Homo sapiens: one gene and its partners. The protein of the gene in region 3 interacts with the protein of the main gene of each other region in a pairwise test. Each region holds a gene or a part of one and is shown on either strand. Other genes may lie near its edges.

Evidence for each region. The genes of interacting proteins can lie anywhere in the genome.
Region 1: the proteins of KPNA3 (region 3) and ATOSB interact in binary tests that used the Homo sapiens proteins (3 or more experiments, as listed by UniProt).
Region 2: the proteins of KPNA3 (region 3) and DDX21 interact in binary tests that used the Homo sapiens proteins (3 or more experiments, as listed by UniProt).

The regions. Positions count from the first base shown.
Region 1 is NC_000009.12:35,112,863-35,120,021, reverse strand, and holds the start of ATOSB (atos homolog protein B), read left to right. Parts: upstream 1-4,159; 5' UTR 4,160-4,217; exon of another isoform or gene 4,218-4,351; intron 4,352-7,159. UniProt on the Homo sapiens protein: Transcription regulator that may syncronize transcriptional and translational programs.
Region 2 is NC_000010.11:68,959,170-68,966,169, reverse strand, and holds part of DDX21 (nucleolar RNA helicase 2), read right to left. Parts: intron 6,365-7,000; coding exon 5,921-6,364; intron 4,089-5,920; coding exon 4,013-4,088; intron 2,880-4,012; coding exon 2,701-2,879; intron 794-2,700; coding exon 676-793; intron 1-675.
Region 3 is NC_000013.11:49,719,015-49,727,114, reverse strand, and holds part of KPNA3 (importin subunit alpha-4), read left to right. Parts: intron 1-1,613; coding exon 1,614-1,699; intron 1,700-4,551; coding exon 4,552-4,638; intron 4,639-4,990; coding exon 4,991-5,160; intron 5,161-7,295; coding exon 7,296-7,340; intron 7,341-8,100. UniProt on the Homo sapiens protein: Functions in nuclear protein import as an adapter protein for nuclear receptor KPNB1. Binds specifically and directly to substrates containing either a simple or bipartite NLS motif.

The DNA.
Region 1 (7,159 bases), on a different chromosome or scaffold from region 3:
TTTCTGCCTCCCAGGCTCAACCAATTCTCGCACCTCAGCCTCCCGAGTAACTGGGACTACAGGGATGTGCCACAACACCCAGCTAATTTTTGTCTTTTTAGTAGAGATGGGGTTTCACCATGTTGGCCAGGCTGGTCTCGAACTCATGACCACAAGTGATCCACCTGCTTCAGCCTCCCAAAGTGTTGGGATTACAGGTGTGAGGCACCACACCTGGCCAGAATATGGGTATTTGTTATAATATTCTTTAGAGCTTCCTGTATGCCTCAAGTATTTCATAAAGAAGTTCTAAAAATCTTGTAGAAAAATAAAGACTCAGACTGCTTAGCTACCACTGTTGTTTTTTTTTTTTTTTAAAGACTGCAATATGATGCCAGGTGCTCTGGCTCACACTTGTAATCCCAGCACTTTGGGAAGCTGAGGCAGGAGGATAACTTGAGGCCAGGAGTTGTAGACCAGTATGGGCAACCTAGCAAGCCCTATCTCTACAATAGAAGATTAAAGGCCAGGCGCTGGTGGCTCACGCCTATAATCCCAGCACTTTGGGAGGCCAAGGTAGGCGGATCACTTGAGGACAGGAGTTTGAGACCAGTCTGGCCAATATGATAAAACCCTGTCTCTACTAAATATACAAAAATTAATTAGCCAGGTGTGATGGCTTATGCCTGTAATCCCACTACTCAGGAGGCTGAGGCAGGAGAATCACTTGAACCTGGGAGGCAGAGGTTGCAATGAGCTGAGATCACACCGTTGTACTCCAGCCTCAGTGACAGAGCGAGACTCCATCTCAAATAAAATAAAATATAATAAAAAATTAAAAAAAATAAAAAATTAAAATTTTTTTTTCTTTTTTGGTAGCATGTGTTTGTAGTCCTAGCTACTCTGGAGGCTGAGGCAGGAGTATCCCTCGAGCCCAGGAGCTCAAAGTTACAAGGGCTATGATTGCACCACTGTACTTCAGCCTGGGTGACAGAATGAGACCCTGTCTCTTAAAAAACAAAACTAGTCCAGGAGCGGTGGCTCACGCCTGTAATCCCAGCACTTTGGAAGGCCAAGGCGGGTGGATCACCTGAGGTCGGGAGTTCGAGATCAGCCATGACCAACATGGAGAAACCCTCATCTCTACAAAAAATACAAAATTAGCCAGGCGTGGTGGCACATGCCTGTAATCCCAGGTACTCAGAAGGCTGAGGCAGGAGAATCGCTTGAACCCAGGAGGCGGAGGTTGCAGTGAGCCAAGATTGCGCCATTGCACTCCAGCCTGGGCAACAAGAGCAAAACTCTGTCTCAAAATAAAACAACAACAACCAAAAAAAAAAAAAAAAAACGGCCGGGCACAGTGGCTCATGCCTGTAATCCCAACAGTTTGAGAGGCTGAGGCGGGTGGGTCACAACGTCAGGAGATCAAGACCATCCGGGGCAATATGGTGAAACCTTGTCTCTACTACAAATACAAAAATTAGCCCGGCGTGGTGGCATGCACCTGTAGTCCCATCTACTCAGGAGGCTGAGGTGGGAGAATCGCTTGAACCCAGGAGGCAGAGATTGCAGTGAGCCAAGATCGTGCCACTGCACTCCAGCCTGGGCGAAAGAGCAAGACTCTGTCTCAAAACAAAACAAAAACTGTTAAGGTCATCAAAAACAAGGAAGTTTGAAAAACTGTCACAGCCAAGAGGAGCCAAAGGAGACATGATGTCTAAATGTAATGTTCCAGCTTGGGTTAGATTTTGGCACAGAAAAAGGACATAAGGCAAAAACTAAGAAAATCAGAATAGGCCGGGCGCGGTGGCTCACACCTGTAATTCCAACACTTTGAGAGGCCGAGGCGGGTGGATCACCTGAGGTCGGGAGTTCGAGACCAGCCTGACCAACATGGAGAAACCCTATCTCTACTAAAAATACAAAATTAGCCAGGCGTGGTGGCACATGCCTGTAATCCCAGCTACTCGGGAGGCTGAGGCAGGAGAATCTCTTGAAACCAGAAGGTGGAGGTTACAGTGAGCCGAGATCTTGCCACTGCACTCCAGCCTGGGTGAAAGAGCGACAACTCCGTCTCAAAAAAACAAAAAGAAAATCAGAATAAAGTGTGGGTTTTAGTTATTGTTAATGTATCAATATTGGCTTATTAATTGTAATAAATGAACCATATAAGGAAAGATGTTAATAATAGGAGAAACTAGGTGTAGGGTATATATGAAAACTCTCTGCACTATTTTTACAAGTTTTCTGTAAATCTAAAATTGTTCTAAAATTAATTTTTTAAAGTCAAATAATTTACCTAAATCTATACAGCTAGTAAATACTCAAAGGTATGAGACAAACTCATAAGTTGAACCCATAAGTTGAAGTTTGAAGTTGAAGTTGAAGAAGTTTAGATGACTTCAAACTCTGTGGTTTTCCCACTACCCAAAACCTTTCTTAGTTTACCCTTCTGGGATTATGTAGGCATTTGTATCACTGTCTAAATAATAAGTTCCTTATGGCCAGAGAAAATACTTTTTTCTTTCTTTTTTTTGCGCTTCCACACCACTGACGTTGAGTAAACCAGTTTAAGTTAACTACTGACAAAGTCACAGAGCCTAAAGAATCTGAGATTTGGCCGGGTGCTGTGGCTCACGCCAGTAATCCCAACACTTTGGGCAGCCGAGGCGGGCGGATCGCTTGAGGTCAGGAATTTGAGACCAGCCTGGCCAACATGGTGAAACCTGTCTCTACCAAAAATACGAAAATTAGCCCGGCCTGGTGGCGCGCGCTTGTAATCCCAGCTACTCTGAAGGCTGAGGCAGGAGAATTGCTTGAACCCAGTAGGCGGAGGTTGCAGTGAGCCGAGATCGCACCACTGCACTCCAGTTTGGGCGAAAGAGCGAGACGCCGTCTCAAAAAAAAATAAAAAAGAATGTGACTTTTGTAGAACTTGATCAAATCCAGACCCAAACGGTCCGCTCCTCGGAGAGGCCACAGATCGGCGCTGAGCTGGGCTGTCTCAGTTCTGCAAGTGTCCTGTGCTGCCATCTACCGGTGTCTGGGAAGCGTCGCCCTCCCTTATTGTATCTCCTGGGGAGAGGTTGGAGAGGGCGCCGCTTAAACTGCAGAACATATGTAACTGTCATGCAGTTCATTAGACACCTGTACAAGGGAAAGGCCTCACTTTTCTCCAGCAATTGCAGGCCCTCCTAACTCCATATCAACACTCATCTCGTAAAATTCACAGATCTCGCTGACCTGCCTCAGTAGGTACTGATCTGACTCCTACTGTCCATCCCATCCCAGAACCCACACCCGCCTGCACAGCGTAGGCTTCAGAAACTGCTCAACCTCGCAGACCTGAACCCCACCGCCCAGATTCCCTCATTTTCACAGACCCCTGAGATTCCTTGCACTACCTTGCAATCCCTACGGACCTCCCCTATTAGTGCAAATGCACGCGCCCACCCAGACATCCCTACAAAGAGGTTAGAGTTCCGGCGGCAGCTCACACCGGTGCGAAAGCAGCGAGATAGCCCCAACCCGGCTCAGAGCCCTCAGGCTGGTGGCTTTGGCCCTGGCTCCATCTCCCCACCTCTGCCCTGATCCGCTCCGCTCAGGCTAGCAGCCTGCCGGCCGAGGCCCCGCCCCTCTAGACTTGTCATCACAGAAGCCGCACGTGGCCGGGGTGGGACCTCAGGCGACCTGCGACCATCACTTTGTCTCCTCCTTCCTCCTTTGGGGCCGCCACCGCCAATCAGAGCCAGCGGATCCTGGTTGGAGTGCGACCGCCCGGGTGAGGCGTGAGGGAGAAGGGGCGGAAGGAGGAGGGGCTCTGAGATGGGAGGGGGATCGTGGTGGAAGGGTCTTGGCGCGACTTCTGCCAGGCTGGAATCCGAGGGGGCGGGTCCTGGTGAAAGGCGGAGAGACCGAGAGGAGGCGGGGATCGGGGGTGGGGCCTGGGAAAAGCTGAGGATCCTGGGGAAATGCAAAGAAAACGCGAAGGAGGTGCGAGGTCAGAAGGGGGCGGGGCCCGGGCTACAGGGGAGGAGCTCGAGAAATTAAACGAGGAAAGGGACAAGTCCACAGAAGGTGGAAGGTGGGACAAGGGAGAGGGTGGGCCCGGGCGTTGCGGGGGCGGGGCTCAGACTGAAGGGGCGAGGTTTGCAGGCGGAGGCTACAGCTAGGGCTGCTCAGTAACTGCCCCAACCACTACCACGTCCCCAAGTGCAACGGGACCCACGGAACTACAGGTGTGGGGCAGGGTGAGCGTGGAAGAAGGGACGCGGATGGGGGTGCGCTTTGCAGACGATCTGGAGACTGCTGTGTGTTGAGGGAAGATACGAAGTCGCGGGAGCAGTTGGGGACTCAATGTGTGGGCAACAAGGTGCATTCTCCAGAGGCCTCTATGGGGGAAGGGCGGGAGCGCTTTGTTGTGGGGGGGTTGCGAGGTACATTGTGAGGGGGCTGTCTCTGTCTGATGTGGGGGGTTGGAGGAGGTACATGAGGGGCAGGGGACATGGAGGTGCTTTGAAGGAAGGGGGGCTGTTTAATGGAGAAGGAGTGTAGCGGTGTCGGAGGGTCTGCGGGCACTATCTAGGGGAAGGGGTTGTAGGCCCAACTTGAGGCAGGAGAACAGAACCCCCAGTACTTTGACAAAGTAACAGTTTAGGGCATTGTAGTAACTACAGGAAGACACTTGTGTTCTGGGTTCTAAGAGCAAGGGTGTTGGGGTTAGTGGGGTGAAGAGGCCAATCTATTGCACTCCTGTCTGCTCAGCTTTTAACTCCGCCTTCTGGCCTGGGCACTCAGAGAGGAGTCAGACCCTGCTTGTCACTAGGGCTTGTGTGAATGTCTCCTCAGTCTATTTTGGATCTGTCCAGCTGAGACTGGGGTTTCTTCCCTAAGCTGAGGTCCCGGGGGACCCTTCCCCCGCTGGGTTCCTGTCAACCCCCCATCCTAGTTCCTGTTCCTCCCAGAGCCGGCCTTGGTCTCTGTCTCCCCCCTCCCCCGCCCTGCCCTTATGCTCTGGGTGTGCTCATTTCCCACTTCCTTCCTTGCCCCAGGGCCTGGCCTGGCCCTTGCCCATCTAGGAGCTGTGCCCTGCCCGGTACTTTGTTATCAATGACCAGAGACCCTGGTAACCAGCGGCAGGGCTCAGACCCCACCCCCACCACTACCACCCAGGTCTCTCGCATAGATCCCCAAGTGACTGGTAGCCACATTTAACCACTTGCCACAAACAGATTTTCCCCACCCTTATCCTTCTGGGTAGGGAACGCTAGGGCTTCTGTGGGAGGGGGGAAGTGGTGAGGAGTATTGAGGGTCTTCTGTCTGTTTTGAGAGGTGGGCCACGACTGTAAGCTGAACCCAGTAAGGGTTGTGAGGTTCCAGCCACAGCTAGGGGAGGAAGAGGGAGTGGCTCCCCACACTCCAGGCTTGGAAGCACTATCAGAACAGGCTAGGACCTAGTTCTCTTGAGGGCTCCTCTGCTTCCCTGAGGGGATTTGATGGAGTGCTAGAGTTCTTTTTGCCCCTGGGCTGGCTGGGAGAGGGTGGGAAAGGCTTGAGTTCCACACAGTGGCTAAATGAGTGTGACAGTGTTGCTAAAAGGGGCCCCAAGCCAGCCTCCTCACACAACCACCCAGGAGCTGAGAGACTGGCTGGGGAGGGGGGTGGGTCTGCTGAGGACAGACAAAGCCCTGGGGTAGGGTGGGGTAAAAAAGGGCAGGCTGAAGCCTTTTGAGGAGGAGCTGATTGCTATGGCAACACTGCTTCCCAGACAGTCTCTCAGAGAGGGCGGGCCTAGGGCAGACTCTCCAGCTTCCTCAGGACTGGGGCGGTTTGTGTGAGTGGGTGGGGCATGAAGAGAAAGGGCATCAGTTTGCTGTGCTGAGACTGGAGGATATAGCCTTTCTGCTTTGGTACAGGCAGCAGAGCATTCGAATGCCTGGAGCTATCCTCTGATATGGAGATGAGTGAACAACAGTCATTAGAATTGTAGAGCTGCAGAGGCCCTCAGCAGTCATTGTTTATACAAACACCTCATTTTACAGGTTTGGAAATTTATGGCTAAAGAGACTGTGATTCCCCAGATGTCACAGTGAAAGGGCAGAAGATAGGATCCAGATCGCCGGATTGCTGTTCACTCAGCCCAGGGCCTGTTGTTTTCTTCAGTCAATGTTTATTGAACATTGCCAGGGACTAATGTTGGCTCTGGGAATATGAGCATGAACGAAACAAAGTTGCTGCTCTCATGGAGCTTCCATTCTATTAAGGGGAGAAAGAAATTGTGGAGGGGGAGGGAGAAGTCAAGTAGTGATAACCGCTATATAAAAAAAAATAAAGCAGGATAAATTTAGGGCAGGAAGGTAAGGCCTCTTTATTTATTTATTTATTTATTTATTTATTTATTTATTTATTTATTTTTGAGACGGAGTCTCACTCACTCTGTCACCCAGGCTGGAGTGCAGTGGTGCGATCTTGGCTCACTACAACCTCCGCCTCCTGGGTTCAAGTGATTCTCCTGCCTCAGCCTCCTGAGTAGCTGGGATTACAGGTGCGCGCCACCACACTCAGCTAATTTTTGTATTTTTAGTAGAGACGGGGTTTCACCATGTTAGTCAGGCTGGTCTCGAACTCCTGAGCTTGTGATCCGCCCACTTTGGCCTCCCAAAGTGCTGGGATTACAGGCGTGAGCCACCGTACCTGGTGGTAAGTCCTCTTGGTTGTACCCTGCTGCTTTCCCAGGGTACACTGAGGCCTGGAACATCTTTGATCCTTCACCCTGAACTATTGTCCTCTGACCTTTGTAGGTAACCAAGGCCTGGCCTATGGTAGTGGCAGAAAGATAGAATAAGGTGGGGTTGCTAAGGGATTATTTTTTTCCTACAGTGTTCTACGTCTCTGTTTTCCTAGTAAGTTTTTATTAAGGCAAGTAGGCTCTTACATTGATACACTGTAATTTTGACAAGGGCATTGAAAATTTCCTTAACCCTGTTCCTTACACTAGGGAACCGGCAAGGAAGTCAGCCCAAGGGAACTGGGTTCTTATTCAGAGTTTTCCTCTTGAAAAGGGTGGTCTAGGGTGAGGTAAGGAGAAGGGAGCTTAGAGGGACTGTTACTTGCTTGTGTCTCCCAAGTCTAGGACTGAGGGACTAGGGGGAAGAGGAAGGAGCCTCTTTTTACTATCTAG
Region 2 (7,000 bases), on a different chromosome or scaffold from region 3:
TGCCTGCCACCACGCCCGGCTAATTTTTTGTATTTTTAGTAGAGACGGGGTTTTACCGTGTTAGCCAGGATGGTCTCGATCTCCTGCCCTTGTGATCTGCCCGCCTCAGCCTCCCAAAGTGCTGGGATTACAGGCGTGAGCCACTGCGCCTGGCCAAAACTATGATTTTTTTAAATTCCTTAAATCCCTTCCTAATTTATACATCTGCTCTAATAATAAAGCTCCAAGGCCTTGAACTGGGAAGTAATGGAATATAAGAGTAGAGACTAACATTTGGCCCTTGAGCCCCAAGGAAAGAAAGCCTGCCTACATCAAGAAAGAAGCAACCATGCAGAAAGAGGGACAGACCCAAGGTCCTGACAGACAAGAGGAACCTTGAATTCTGACTTCCTATTTCCTAGAGCCCAAATGGACTGTCTTTTTGGGTTCAATAATAAATTACTTTTGTAGCCCCTAGATAAATATAAATAGATAAAAGTCCTAAGAACGATATACAGGATTTGCCTATCATCAAGCAGGACCATGTTCTTGACCATGTTTAAACAATGGCAAAAGAAAATCCCCATAAACGACTATCCTATATAGAGAAGCCAGATGTCAAGGTGAAAAGAAATCCAATCAGAGCAGTCAACAATGGGTGGCATTATACCTCCCTCACTTTTTGAATGTACTCACATTGACCTCCATAGGGAGTTCCACCATAAAAACAAGCCACTGACAGCTTTTTTGTGATGTCACTGAAGTCTTTGCTTACTTGATTTGCCAACTCTCTTGTAGGTGCAAGAACCAGTACCTGATAAAGAAAAATAATTGAATTCAAATTACTGTGTAGTATTTGTTTCTTAATCTAGTCCTTAAAGAACAGCATTCCAGGAAAAGAACGACTTGAACAAGGTCTAACGCTGATGATGACGATAACATTATCTAATATTTTTGTCTAATAGATCTGAGACTCTACTAAATTCTTTATATATATTATTCTGATTCAATTCTTGCAACCTTTTGAGCTAGGTATTAGAGGATAAATAACTTGACTAAACCCCAAAGGCTAAGAAGGAGCAGAGCCTTCAAGCAATTGGGATCCAAAACCTATAGTCTTAACCTCTACAGTAGAGAAAATTTGAAGCAGAACAAAATCAGAGAAGTAAGGTAGAGCCAACAATGTAAGGGGCTTTGAATCCTAGAGCAATATGAATTTGATCTATATATATATAAAACATGAAACTGCTGGCCAGGCGCAATGGCTCATGCCTATAATCCTAGCACTTTGGGAGGCCAAGGTGGGTGGTCAGGAGTTCAAGACCAGCCTGGCCAACATGGTGAAAGTCTATCTCTACTAAAAATACAAATGAGCCAGGCGTGGTGGCTCACACTTGTAATCCCAACTACTTGGGATGTTGAGGCGGGAGGATCACTTAAACCTGCGAGGCAGAGGTTAAGATTGCACCACCGCACTCCAACCTGGGCGACAAAGCGAGACTTTGTCTCAAAAAAAAAAAAAAAAAAAAGTCCAGGTGCAGTGGCTCAAGCCTATAATTCCAGCACTTTGGGAGGCTGAGGTGGGTGGATCACTTGACGTCAGGAGTTCCAGACCAGCCTGGCCAACATGGTGAAACCCCATCTCTACTAAAAATACAAAATTAGCCAGGCATGGTGGTACACGCCTGTAATCCCAGCTACTTGGGAGGCTAAGGCAGGAGAATTGCTTGAACTGCTACAGGTCCTCAAAAATAGGGTAATGGTATGAAACTAATATGATTCAAGAACACCTAATACATTCATCTAAAATGTGCTAGGGATATAGCAGTAAACAAATTAACAAAGGGGGAGCATGGACACTGGAAGGCCAGTGAGCAAGTGAGGTTAGGCCAGAAAGACAACTGCAAGAACCCACAGCCAAAGTGACTACATGGGCATTCGCAGTCATTTCAATGAGGTTAATGTTTGTTAAATGTCAAGTTCTCTAGAAATGAACCCAATGGACTCACCCTAATATGGGGGCTTGGCGTTTTCACCTCTGACTTGCCCTTCTTTCCATTCATGCTTTTCTTTTTTTTTTTTTTTTTTTCTTGAGACGGAGTCTTGCTCTATCGCCCAGGCTGGAGTGCAGTGGTGCATCTCGGCTCACTGCAAGCTCCGCCTCCTGGATTCACGCCATTCTCCTGCCTCAGCCTCCCAAGTAGTTGGGACTACACGCGCCCGCCACCACGCCCGGCTAATTTTTTGTATTTTTATTAGAGATGGGCTTTCATGTTGTTAGCCAGGATGGTCTCGATCTCCTGACCTCGTGATCCGCCCACCTCGGGCTCCCAAAGTGCTGGGATTACAGGTGTGAGCCACCGCCCATTCATGCTTTTCTACCAAAAATGCTTTCTCCATCTAGGCAAAAATGGTCAGACACTTGACGAAAGCTATGAGCCCCAGGGACATCTAATGGTTTGAAGGAAATATGATAGCATTAATTATATAGATGATCAAAACTGTGGGAAAGATTAAAATATTGAAATATACAGAGAATGATCTGTATATATTAATTATTAAATATAAAAGAATTGTCCTGGATTACTTTCACATAAAGATCCACAGTAAATAGAATGGGTGACTATAAGAACTCAATAAAAAATAGTAGGGTATGTACACAATGCCCAAGTGGTGGTTTTTCCTATGCTGACTGAGAGCCCTTGTATTTAAGACAGTTACCTGAGGGGCACGGCCTCTCTTCCTGTCTTGCAGTTCCCCATGAAGTTTCTCAATCAAAGGGATGGCAAAGGAGAATGTCTTCCCAGTTCCTGTCCGTGCCTGTGCAATTAAGTCCTTCCCGCTGTAAACATGATGGAATGTCTTTGCTTGTATAGGAAATAGGAAGGTCACTCCTCGGCCTATGAACAAATTAACTGTGTTATCTCACACTGCAATTCTTAAAACATTAGCCATACTGACATACTGAAGTATACTACTCATGCTTCTGGTCCTGCAGAATTAAGGAATTCTACCTTCTGGTCAACATCTACAAAGTTAGGCTCAAATACGTATATTTTTTAAGAGACAAGGTCTTGCTTTGTCGCCCATGCTGGAGTACAGTGGTGTGATCATAACTCACTTGCAGCCTTGAACTCCTGGGCTCAAGTGATCCTCCTGCCTCAGCCTGATGGACAGCTGGGATTACAGGTGCAAGCCATCATACCTGGCTCAGAAATATTCTGATAGTAAAGAATCTGCTTGACTGAAAAATATCAACAAACTTTAAAGCATCCAATTATAGTAAATATTTGAAGTCTCATCCATAAGCCTGAAAATCTGGTGCTTTGCAATCCAACTGTGCTGCTCCTGATTTAGGAAGCACCTACTTGAGTAACTGTGACTCCAGCTACTTCAGAAGCAGATTATTAAATGAATTCTGGGTTTATGCCTATAAATTAGGCTCATTAATCTAGAGATGCCTCAGAAGTGAAAGAGATAAAACATTAATATGGCATCACCTAATTGCTTAATTTCACCAGCACCATTAGTCAATACACTTCTGAATACACACTGTATTAAATACAATTTTTTTTGAGACAGGGTTTCATTCTGTCACCCAGGCTGGCGTGCAGTGGTGTGACCACAGTTCACTGAAGCCTTGAACTCCTGGGCTCAAGCGATCTTCCTTCCTCAGCCTCTGGAGTAGTTAGGACTATAGATGTGTGTTACCACGTGCCCAGCTAATTTTTAAACTTTTTGTCGGGACAGGTTCTCACTATGTTACCCAGGAAGATCTCAAACTCCTGGCCTCAATCAATTACAGGTGTGAGCCACCACAGAGGGCCTGAAAAAGCTTTAACCACTTGTTTAAGAAGCATGAAGAACCATCACTACTATAGTACTAAATTGAATACACAGGCCTACTTCATTATATGACTGCATATATCAGCCTACAATAAGAATACATCCTGGTTCATCTTAACAAAAATAGTGGAGTGCTTCTGTTAAAATAATACGTTCTAACATCATACGATATTTCCAAGAACATTACCTTTGAGAAGTTTAATAGTTTCTTCAGATATGGGAAAATTAGAGAAAGCGCCTTCTTTTTGTTCCACAGGTATTTCCTATCAAGTAAAGGGCCATAGAAAGAAATCAATAATCACCTACACAAATTAATAGAGAACCTTCTGAGAAAGAGACAAAACAAGCTATCCTAAAGCAATTCTTCTAAACACATCACTTTAAAAATCAACCAAAAAGATACAAAAACCTTGATAGGTAACTCGAGATCTGAAAAGGAAACATTGTCATAAATCTATAAAACTTTAACAAAAGAAAAATCTGAGGCAAATATATACTGGGTAACTAGATCTCAACTAAGATCTCAACTAAGATTATGTGTGACTAGATCTCAACTAAGATCTACTCCATAACCATAATCAACAATATACTGATGGAAATGTCATTAGCCCTCTTCCAAAGCAGCATCTCTTGTATACACACATCCATAGAAAATGAACAAACATTTTATGAGGTAGCAGTCACTGTGGCATTATTTGATAGTAAGATATCTGAATGCTCAATACAAGTAGTAAGTAGATTTCAAGACATTTATATGAAGGATTATGTAACCATTAAGCGTACTTAACGAGGAAAATGCTTAGCTAGAAACAAAAAAGATACAAGATTGCACAGTACAATCCTAATCTGATTAAAAATAATAGATGCATATACTAAAAGTACTACAAGGAAACACCAAAAATTAACAAGATGACTTCTGTACTTGAAAAGTACAGGTATTAATATTTACTAAATGAATGGTGAAATTCCAGGAAGCATTTCTTTCTTTTTGCAAAATGTCTGCATTTTCTATTTTCTCTGGATCACATATTTTTTATAATCAGGAAAAAAGTTACAAATGTTGACCATGATCTATAGCAAAAAGAAAATCTATTAGAATTAGTATTTTTCAGCTGGGTGTGGTGGCTTGTGCCTGTAATCCCAGCTACTCGGGAGGCTTAGGCGGGATTATCGCTTGAAGCCACAAGTTCTAGACCAGCCTGGGCCACACAGCGAGATCCCATGTCTAAAACAAATTTTTTTAATACAATTCGTATTTCTTTCATAACTGAGTTTCTGAAAGATAACAGAATTAGGTTCTGGACAGACATTTTATCATCCTGTTCAACTCCAGGATGATTACTTAATGGCCTAACCAAAAGGACTTATGCAATCAACCTTTTCAGTAATTCCAATAATTTATTTGGTTAAACCCCTCAGAGGGAAACTAGGGCCCATTTACAAAACTGTATCTCTTCTGTTGACTGACTTGCAAATAAGCAGACCAAGACTCTCCCTAAGCTTAAGCAGTATCTGCTTATTTGTAAAGGAGGCATTGTGACACTATGCTAATTTTTTTTTTTTTTTTTTTAAAGACAGAGTCCGCTGGGAACAGTAGCTCATGCCTGTAATCCCAACACTTTGGGAGGCCCAGGCGGGCAGATCACCTGGGGTTGGGAGTTCGAGACCAGCCTGGCCAACATGGTGAAAGCCCGCCTCTACTAAAAATACAAAAAATTAGCCAGGCGTGATAGCACACACCCGTAATCCCACCTACTGAGGAGGCTAAGGTAGGAGAATCACTTGAACCCAGGAGGCAGAGGTTGCAGTGAGCTGAGATCGTGCCACTGTACTCCAGCCTAGGTGACAGAGCGAGACTCTGTCTCAAAAAAATAAAAAAATAAAAAAGACAGAGTACTCTTAGCTGAGCCACCATGCCCTGTCGTATGCTAATTTTTAAGATGAAGTCCCAGTCAGCCTAAGGTATCCCCCAACCCACAAGGTGCTGACACATCACATTTTCTCCTACTATTAAAGAGTACATATAGCAGTTACCTACTTATTTATCTGAAACAACAATGAAAGATATCTTCTACCCAATGAAGTGCAAATGTACCTGCTCTATCTCACTGTTACTTTCTTCACTGGCAGCTTCACTGGGGTTACAGTCCGGTTCAGGATGAGGAAATCCATTCTTCAGTTTGGGGCTTTTCTCTCTAGTTTCTCCATTCATTTCCTTTTCTTTCTTCATCTTCTTGGGCTTAGGAGCATCTATTTCTTCCTCAGAAGGCTCCTCATTTTTTGTCACTTTTTTGGTTTTAGAAGAAACCACTTTCTTTTCAATGGGCTCCTTTTTCTTTCTCAAACTTTTGGTTTTAGGAGAAATGTCATTTTGAGATGGCTCCTCTTTCTTTTTTGCCTTTTTGGATTTAGGAGAATTCATGTCAACTTCAGAAGGCTCTGCTTTCTTTTTAACTTGTTTAGCTTTGGGGAAAACAGTTTCTTCCTCTTCTGCTATCTCTTCAGTCTTATCAGATTTTGGCTTCTCTTTTTTCTCTTTCTAAAAAAAATTCATAAGGAAAATACAAACACTGAATAAGGCATTTATACATTTGCAACATTCATCAATTCTGGATTATTTCAAGATCATTTTCAACTTTAAAAAATACAATTTTGGGGCATTTCGACATTTGTACTTTCATGCTGTGATAAGGTAAAAATCAAAATAGTAAGCTTTTTCTAAAATCGCTTCTTAGCTATATATATAGACGGGTATATATCAATAGTTTCACTATCTTGGAAAATGAAGAGTGCCCCTTAGTAACTATTCAACTCATGTGGGTCAAACAGTTGTAAAACAGATTTTCTTTTTTGAGACAGAGTCTCGCTCTGTCGCCCAGGCTGTAGTGAAGTGGCACAATCTCAGCTCACTGAAACCTCCACTCCTGAGTTCAAGTTATTCTCATGCCTCAGCCTCCCGAGTACCTGGGACTACAGGCGCCCACCACCACACCCAGCGAATTTTTGTATTTTTAGTAGAGGTGGGGTTTTCCCATGTTGCCCAGGCTGGTCTCAAACTCCTGAGCTCAGGCAACCCACCCACTCCGGCCTCCCAAACTGCTAGGATTACATGAGCCACCGTGCTTGGCCTATAAACCAGATTTTCATAAGGGATTTGGATAAGCTCATGGGATAC
Region 3 (8,100 bases):
AGGCTTTTCTTCAAACTCCCTAACCTTTGTCTAATCTTAATTTTTGCTGACTAAATCCCCCCAATCCTTGGTATTCCACTTAAGGGAATTTGTACTCTTTCAGCTATCCTAACTTAATATCTATCATTTCCTTTTAACAGGTCTTTCCTTTATGTCTTTTTTGTGACAGGGTTTCACTCTGTCACCCAGGCTGGAGTGCAGTGACACAATCACAGCTCATTGAATCCTCAAACTCCTAGGCTCAAGCAATCCCCCCATCCCACCCCCGCCCAGCATCCCAAGTAGCTGGGACTACAGGTGTGTACCACCACATCTGGCTGATTTTTTTATTTTTTGTAAAAATGGGGTCTCACCGTGTTGCCCAGGCTGGTTTCGAACTTTTTGGCTCAAGCGATCTGCCTGCCTCAGCCTCCCAAAGTGCTGGGACTACAGGTGTAAGCCCCAACATGTCTTTTAATAGGTCTCTCCTATATCAGCCTTTAACCTTTTTTAGCCATTCTGCATACCATTGATTTGAACATTATTTTCTTTCCTCCCTTTTTCAATGCCCCATCCTTAGCATATCTGTAGAATACACTCCTCACTCCCATCCTGAAACACACACACACATGCACAAACACCCTGTTACTTGCTTCTTAGTTAGTTTCAGCTCTCTTGATCTAATCCTTGTCGTTCCTACACATCATGATCCTTCCATGCATGATACCTGTTTTATTTCCCACTGTCACTGCCTTTCTTTTTAAATCCATCTTTGAAAAGCTAGTTCAGTTGTCACTTTCTTTGTGAGGTCTTCCATTACTATTCGAAAATATAATGATCTTGTTTTTTCAACAAAATTATACAGCCTTGTAATATCCCTAGTATGTAAAGCAGATGGTGTAATGGAGACAGATGGGGTTCTAGCTTTAAGACCAGCCTAGAGCGTGTGATAGTGGTTAAAGTGAGATGATGAGGGCCTCAACTAGCACTTGATATTAGGGGTGATTATATAAATGTAAGAAATGTTTAAGAGGTAAAATCGACATGATATATTGATTAGATGTGTCTGTGGAGAGGAAGTCGAAGTCAAGGGAAATAATGACTGGCTAAATGTTGTAATACCAGTGGACATAAAGAAGCAGGTTCATAGTGACTGGCTTTGGGAGCCAAAGAGATTTTTTAAGTAGAGATGGCTGCTGGGTGCAGTGGCTCATGCCTATAATCCCAGCACTTTGGGAAGCCGAGGTGGGCAGATCACCTGAAGTCAGGGGTTCAGGACCAGCCTGGCCAACATAGTGAAACCCTATCTCTACTAAAAGTACAAAAATGAGCCAGGTGTGGTGATGTGCACCTGTAATCCCAGCTACTTGGGAGGTGGAGACGAGAATCACTTGAACCCCAGAGGCAGAGATTGCAATGAGTCAAGATGGCGCCACTGCACTCCCGCCTGGGTGATGGAGGGAGACTCCATCTCAAAAAAAAAAAAAAAGTAGGGTTGGCTAGCAGGCAATTGGATTATAACAAGGTGAAATTCAAGGACAAGGCAAAGAATAGCCATATCTTATCAGTCTTAAGATTCATTAATTTAAGTGGTAGTTATGTGTCTAAAAAGATGTGTTATTGTTTTTTTACAGTCCTTCATTACAGTTTGAAGCTGCTTGGGCATTAACTAACATAGCATCAGGAACTTCTGCACAGACTCAAGCTGTTGTGCAGTCTAGTAAGTAAATTCCTTACTGTCTGAACTTTTTGTGTTTTAATGATGGCAAGGAAGTAGAGTTTTGTAATAAAGAAATTTTATCTTGTAACATTTTTTAAATGATGACTTTTATAAGTTACTTTTGATGACCGATATCTTTTTCATAGCCGTCATTAATTTATCATGAAAAATTTTTAATTGTGGTTATTAAAAGAAGAGTAGAGTTTTATCTTTTGGAGTAGACATCATGCTGTGATAACAGGATTTTAAATTCCGTTTCTGATATCTTCAAGATGCTGAATGGCTTCTGCCTTTTAGCTTATGACATATTTTAAATTTTACTTTCCTCAAGATGGGCTAATAATTATTGTTAAATGACACTGACACAAGCTCTTTAGAAAAGTACTAGATATCACCACGTACGTTATTATAGTATGGGACACTTAGCTAATTTTAGGTGTGGTAATCAAGGTGATTTTAAGTAGCATGTGATATGGCAGTAAGTTACATTGAATCATGTATTGAGAATACTATTCTCACCAGACCCACAGGTGGCTCATGCCTCTAATCCCAGCACTTTGGGAGGCTAAGGCAAGCAGATCACTTGAGTTCAGGAGTTCAAGAACAGCCTAGGTGACATGACAAAATCGTGTCTCTACAAAATATTTAAAAATTAGCATTGCATGGTGGCGCATGCCTATAGTCGCACCTACTCAGGAGACAGAGGCGAGAGGATCGCTTGAGCCAGGGAGGCAGAGGTTGCAGTGAGCCGAGACTGCACACTGCATTCCAGCCCCGGCGACAGAGTGAGACCCTATCTCAAAAACAAAGGCTGGGTGCAGTGGCTCAAGCCTGTAATCCCAGCACTTTGGGAGGCCGAGGCGGGTGGATCACGAGGTCAGGAGATCAAGACCATCCTTGCTAACATGGTGAAACCCTGTCTCTACTAAAAATACAAAAACAAAATTAGCCGGGCATGGTGGCGGGCGCCTGTAGTCCCAGCTGCTTGGGAGGCTGAGGCGGGAGAATGGCGTGAACCCGGGAGGCGGAGCTTGCAGTGAGCCGAGATCGTGCCGCTGCACTCCAGCCTGGGTGACAAAGCGAGACTCCACCTCAAAAAAAAAAAAAAAGTTATCATGTGACCCAGCAGTTCTACTCCTAGGTGAAACCAAGAGATATGAAAACATATTCATACAAACACTTGTACATAAATATTCACAGCAATGTTATTCATAACTAACCCAAATGTTCATTAACCGAGGAGTGGATAAAGTGAATGTGGTGTATACAATGGAATACAATTCAGCAGTAAAAAAGAATGAAGTACCAATACCTGTTACCACATGGATGAACCTGAAGAATGTTAAGTGAAGTCAGACCCCCCAAAAAACACAGTATGATTTCATTTGTATGAAATGTCCAGAATAGGCAAATCTGTAAAGACAGAAAGCAGATATTTAATGGTTGCCTGCCGCTTGGGGAATGTGTGGCAGAGGAACAAATGTGGAATGACTGCCTTAAGTATGAGATTTCTTTTTTCTTTTTTCTTTTCTTTTTTTTTTTTTTTTAAGACGGAGTCTCGCTCTGTCGCCAGGCTGGAGTGCAGTGGCGTGATCTCAGCTCACTGCAACTTCCGTCTCCTGGGTTCAAGCAATTCTCCTGCCTCACCCTCCCAAGTAGCTGGGACTACAGGCACACACCACCATGTCCAGCTAATTTTTGTATTTTTAGTAGAGACGGGGTTTCACTATGTTGGCCAGGATGGTCTCAACCTCTTGACCTCGTGATCTGCCCGCCTCGCTTCCCAAAGTGCTGAGATTATAGGTGTGAGCCACTGTGCCCGGCTGAGTATGATATTTTTTTTTTTTGAGACAGAGTCTTGCTCTGTCACCCAGGCTGGAGTGCAGTGGCACGATCTTGGCTCACTGCAACCTCCGTCTCCCTGGTTCAAGCAGTTCTCTGCCTCAGCCTCCAAAGTAGCTGGGATTACAGGCGCCCACCACCACGCCCGGCTAATTTTTATATTTTTAGTAGAGACAGGGTTTCACCATCTTGGCCAGGCTGGTCTTGAACTCCTGACCTGGTGATCCATCTGCCTCGGCCTCCCAGAGTGTTAGGATTACAGGCATGAGCCATCATACCCAGCCAAGATTTCTTTTGAGGTCCTGGAAATGTTATAAAATTAGATTGTGGCGATGTCCTCACAACTCTGTATAAATATGAAATGTCATTGAATTACACACTTAAATGTAAATTTATTGTAATTATATCTCCGTAAAGTTGTTAAAACTGAATTAATTTAAATTTTAAGTAAATAATACAAGTAATACACAGATACAGCAAAAAAAAAAAAATGAGGTAGTGCACAGTTGATTGAAATTTTTAAAAAGTGATCTAGCTTATGCTGGAAATGGGTATAATGTATACATTCTGTAAAGAGTAAGGATTATGAGAAATTATTTTAAAGTATAAGATAGACCTGATATGAGATTAATCAGTTCTTTGGTTAATCCCCGTATCAGGAATTGAGATTTTGTAGACTAAAGCATTACATTTTAAGGTTACATGTTTGGGGTAGGAACTCTTTTTTTTTTTTTTTTTTTTTTAATGGATTATAGGAAGGATTTCATGCTGTTGCTTTCTTTTAGTTAATGGTATGATAGCAACCTTTAGATACTGCCAGTTGGTTACGGTACTTGACTATTACTAGGGGAAAATACTGAAATTGATTCTTTTTAGGGTAAAGATATTTGCCACATTTGTTCTTCCAGCTACAATATGCCAGGCTGTGTATTTGATCAATTTCTTTGATCTGAAATCTGTAAACTCTTCAACATGTTGCTAGTATAAATATTAGTTTTTCTTTATTACAGATGCAGTACCTCTTTTTCTGAGACTTCTTCGTTCACCACATCAGAATGTTTGTGAACAAGCAGTATGGGCTTTGGGAAACATTATAGGTAAGTGGTTTGAAAGGAATCCTCTTAAGAATCTAAATTAACTTTTTTCCTACATTGGCATAGCCATTACATACTATGTTTCCTCTGAATTTAATGTGTGTTGACTCTCTTCTTGCCTCATAAGTACTGACTTAAGATGATGCTCTTTGAAAAGGATATACAGTTTGCTGTTAGCATTGGTAGGTTAAATTTACGTTCCCCAGATCAAAATCTGGAGAAACAACACTTGATGCCTTTGACTAATGGTGAGGAAACATAGAACGTCAGTGTTCCCACATGAGCCATTGCATACATTTCAGACTTTCTCATCCTGAATGTAAGTTTTTTTTAAATATAATTTTCATTTCTGTAGGTGATGGTCCTCAATGTAGAGATTATGTCATATCACTGGGAGTTGTCAAACCTCTTCTGTCCTTCATCAGTCCCTCCATCCCCATCACCTTCCTTCGGAACGTCACATGGGTCATTGTCAATCTCTGCAGGAATAAGGATCCCCCGCCGCCTATGGAGACAGTTCAGGAGGTAAATGAAGAATTGTAAAGGCCAGATGGTATATTTTCCCTATGTTTGTACTTCAGGAATTCATATACAGGGGACAAAATAATACATATACTGATTTCATTGCAGGTGTGAGTTTTTTGTTTGTTTGTTTGTTTGATAACGGAGTCTTGCTCTGTCGCCCAGGCTGGAGTGCAGTGGCGCGATCTTGGCTCACGGCAAGCTCCACTTCCTGGGTTCACGCCATTCTCCTGCCTCAGCCTCCTGAGTAGCTGGGACTACAGGCACCCGCCACCACGCCTGGCTAATTTTTTTGTATTTTTAGTACAGACGGGGTTTCACCATGTTAGCCAGGATGGTCTCGACCTCCTGACCTCGTGATCTGCCCGCCTCGGCCTCCCAAAGTGCTGGGATGACAGGCCTGAGCCACCACGCCCAGCCACAGGTGTAAGATTTTAAAAGTAACGTACCATATTTAATTACTCCTATGAAATAAAAGTTGAGTGTCTTACTGTACCTGAAAGAATGTCAGTTCATCCTAATGCCTATTTTTTTGATTATCTGCATAAAAAGAAAATATAAAAATTCAGAGAGAAAAATACAAAAGGAAAACAATCTCAAAGTTTTATTACTGTATTGCATTGTTGGTTTAAAGCTATAAAAGGGGGTTGCTACAGGCAAAACTAGTATACTTACATGCAAATGTTCTTGAATGAGTTTGCTTTAAGTCCAATTGATTTTTTTTCTTCTTCTTCTTCTTTTGAGACAGTCTTGTTCTATTGCCCAGGCTGGAGTGCAGTGGCATGATCTCAGCTCACTGCAGCCTCTGCCTCCTGGGTTCAAGCGAGTCTCGTGCCTCAGCCTCCTGAGTAGCTGGGATTACAGGCCAGCGCCACCACACCCGGCTAGTTTTTGTATTTTTAGTAGAGATGGGGTTTCACTGTGTAGGCCAGGCTGGTCTCAAACTCCTGACCTGAAGTGATCTGCTCACCTCAGTATCCCAAAGTGCTGGGATTACAGGTGTGAGCCACTGCCCCCACGGCCTAACTCCAATTTATTACTGACAAAATTGGAGTTCTTAAAAGTGTGACATATTTTTTGTTAAATCTACTAATTAAAACAAAGTAAAAACTTTTTTATTTACATTTGATATGTAAATAGATCCTTGTGCTTTGCATTTTAAAAAAAAATCCTACATAACCTTTATTCACTGTTGACTGTGTTATCTCTTTTTTTTTTTTTTTTTTTTGAGACAGTCTCGCTCTGTTTCCCAGGCTGGAGTGCAGTGGCACAATCTTTGCCCACTGCAGCCTCCACATCCGGGGTTCAAGCGATTCTCATGTCTCAGGCATGTGCCACCATGCCAGGCTAATTTTTGTATTTTTAGTAGAAATGGGTTTTCACCATGTTGGCCAGCTGGTCTTGAACTCCTGGCATCAAGCAGTCCACCCACCTCACCCTCCCAAAGTGGTGGGATTACAAGCATGAGCCACCACACTTGGCCAACTGTGTATCTTTATAATGGACATCTTTCTCTAGTACCTGCTACTTTTTGTTGCTATGCAAAGGTATTTTGTGTGATTTCCTACAACCCCCTGCTCCCTTTCTCCCATATTTTAAAAAGAGATCTCTGGGGCCTGAATTTAACAAGCAAAGCTTTGTACTTTGTACTGGTTCGAATTTTCTTGACTAAAGGTGAAGTTGAAAACTTTAATTTGACTTAAGTAGCTTATTAAGTAAAATCGTATTTTTACGTTAAGCAGGTAAGTGAGACAATTACGGCAGTTTTAAGTGTAGCTTTTCTTAAATAGCTGTAACTGTATATTTGCATCTCCATTTTTTCCACTTGACATTTTATGCCATAAAGAAGGTTATTAAAAACAAATGTTTTTATTTTAAGGTACATTAACTTCTGCCAGATTTATTTGGATATTTTAACTTGTTAATTGAACATATTTCAGTTTAACATTTGAGATATGTTTTTGGTTTTTTTAGATTGAATTTATCAGGTTTTCATTTTCCTAAAAGATATTCAGACAAATTTAACATTGTCTTTCTCGCCCTACAAACCATATTTACCGCTTTTTATGTCAAAGTTGTTCATTTTTACAGACATATTAATTAACTAATGTTAAGTATTGTTTATTTTCTTTCCTCAGATTTTGCCAGCTTTATGTGTCCTCATATACCATACAGATATAAACGTAAGTTAAGAAGCAGCTTAAATGTGGGATTTTGCTCTTGATGGGACAGAAAGGGTTTTTATGTAAGTGTCAGCATACATTTTATCAACTTGTCAAGTTTCTACAACGTATTTACAGTTTTCAGAAATAGGATTAAGCTTAAATTAGGTTTATAGCTTAAATCTGTAAGCAGTAACAGCCAGACAGCAAAAATGCTCACTTTTGAGAAATTACTGCATATGTAGTTTATTTCTGTCATTATTAAGTAGTGTTTTTAAACCTTAATATTTGTAAAGCGGTAAAACCTCATGAAACACCTTACTTTTTAAAAAAAATCTCACTGGTTCTTACAACAGATAGGCTAGATATTATTCCCCCCATTTTATAGAATAAGAAGAAACGGACTCTCAGAGAGAGATTAAATGACTTATCTAAAGTGGAAGAGCTAGTAAGGGTCAGAGTCAATATTCAAATTAAAGTCTTCTCATAACAGGTCTTGGGTACTTGTCACAAAACCATGCTGCCTTTTTATGCTACAGTCTTTTTAGATATAGTATAGAAGAATATATAGTTTTAAATGCAAGGCATTTTTAGGTGATTTTTTTTCATTATATTCAGATTTAGTGAAGCATTTACTGTCAACGTTCTGGCAAGTTTGATACTATCTAGGCAATCTGAAAATTCTCCTAAATGCAGTAAGGTAAATTGTTACTTTTCCATGGAGTAAAACAGTGGATAAATTTCGGTGACTAGTGTTGATCCAGTTTCTTTTATTCTAACT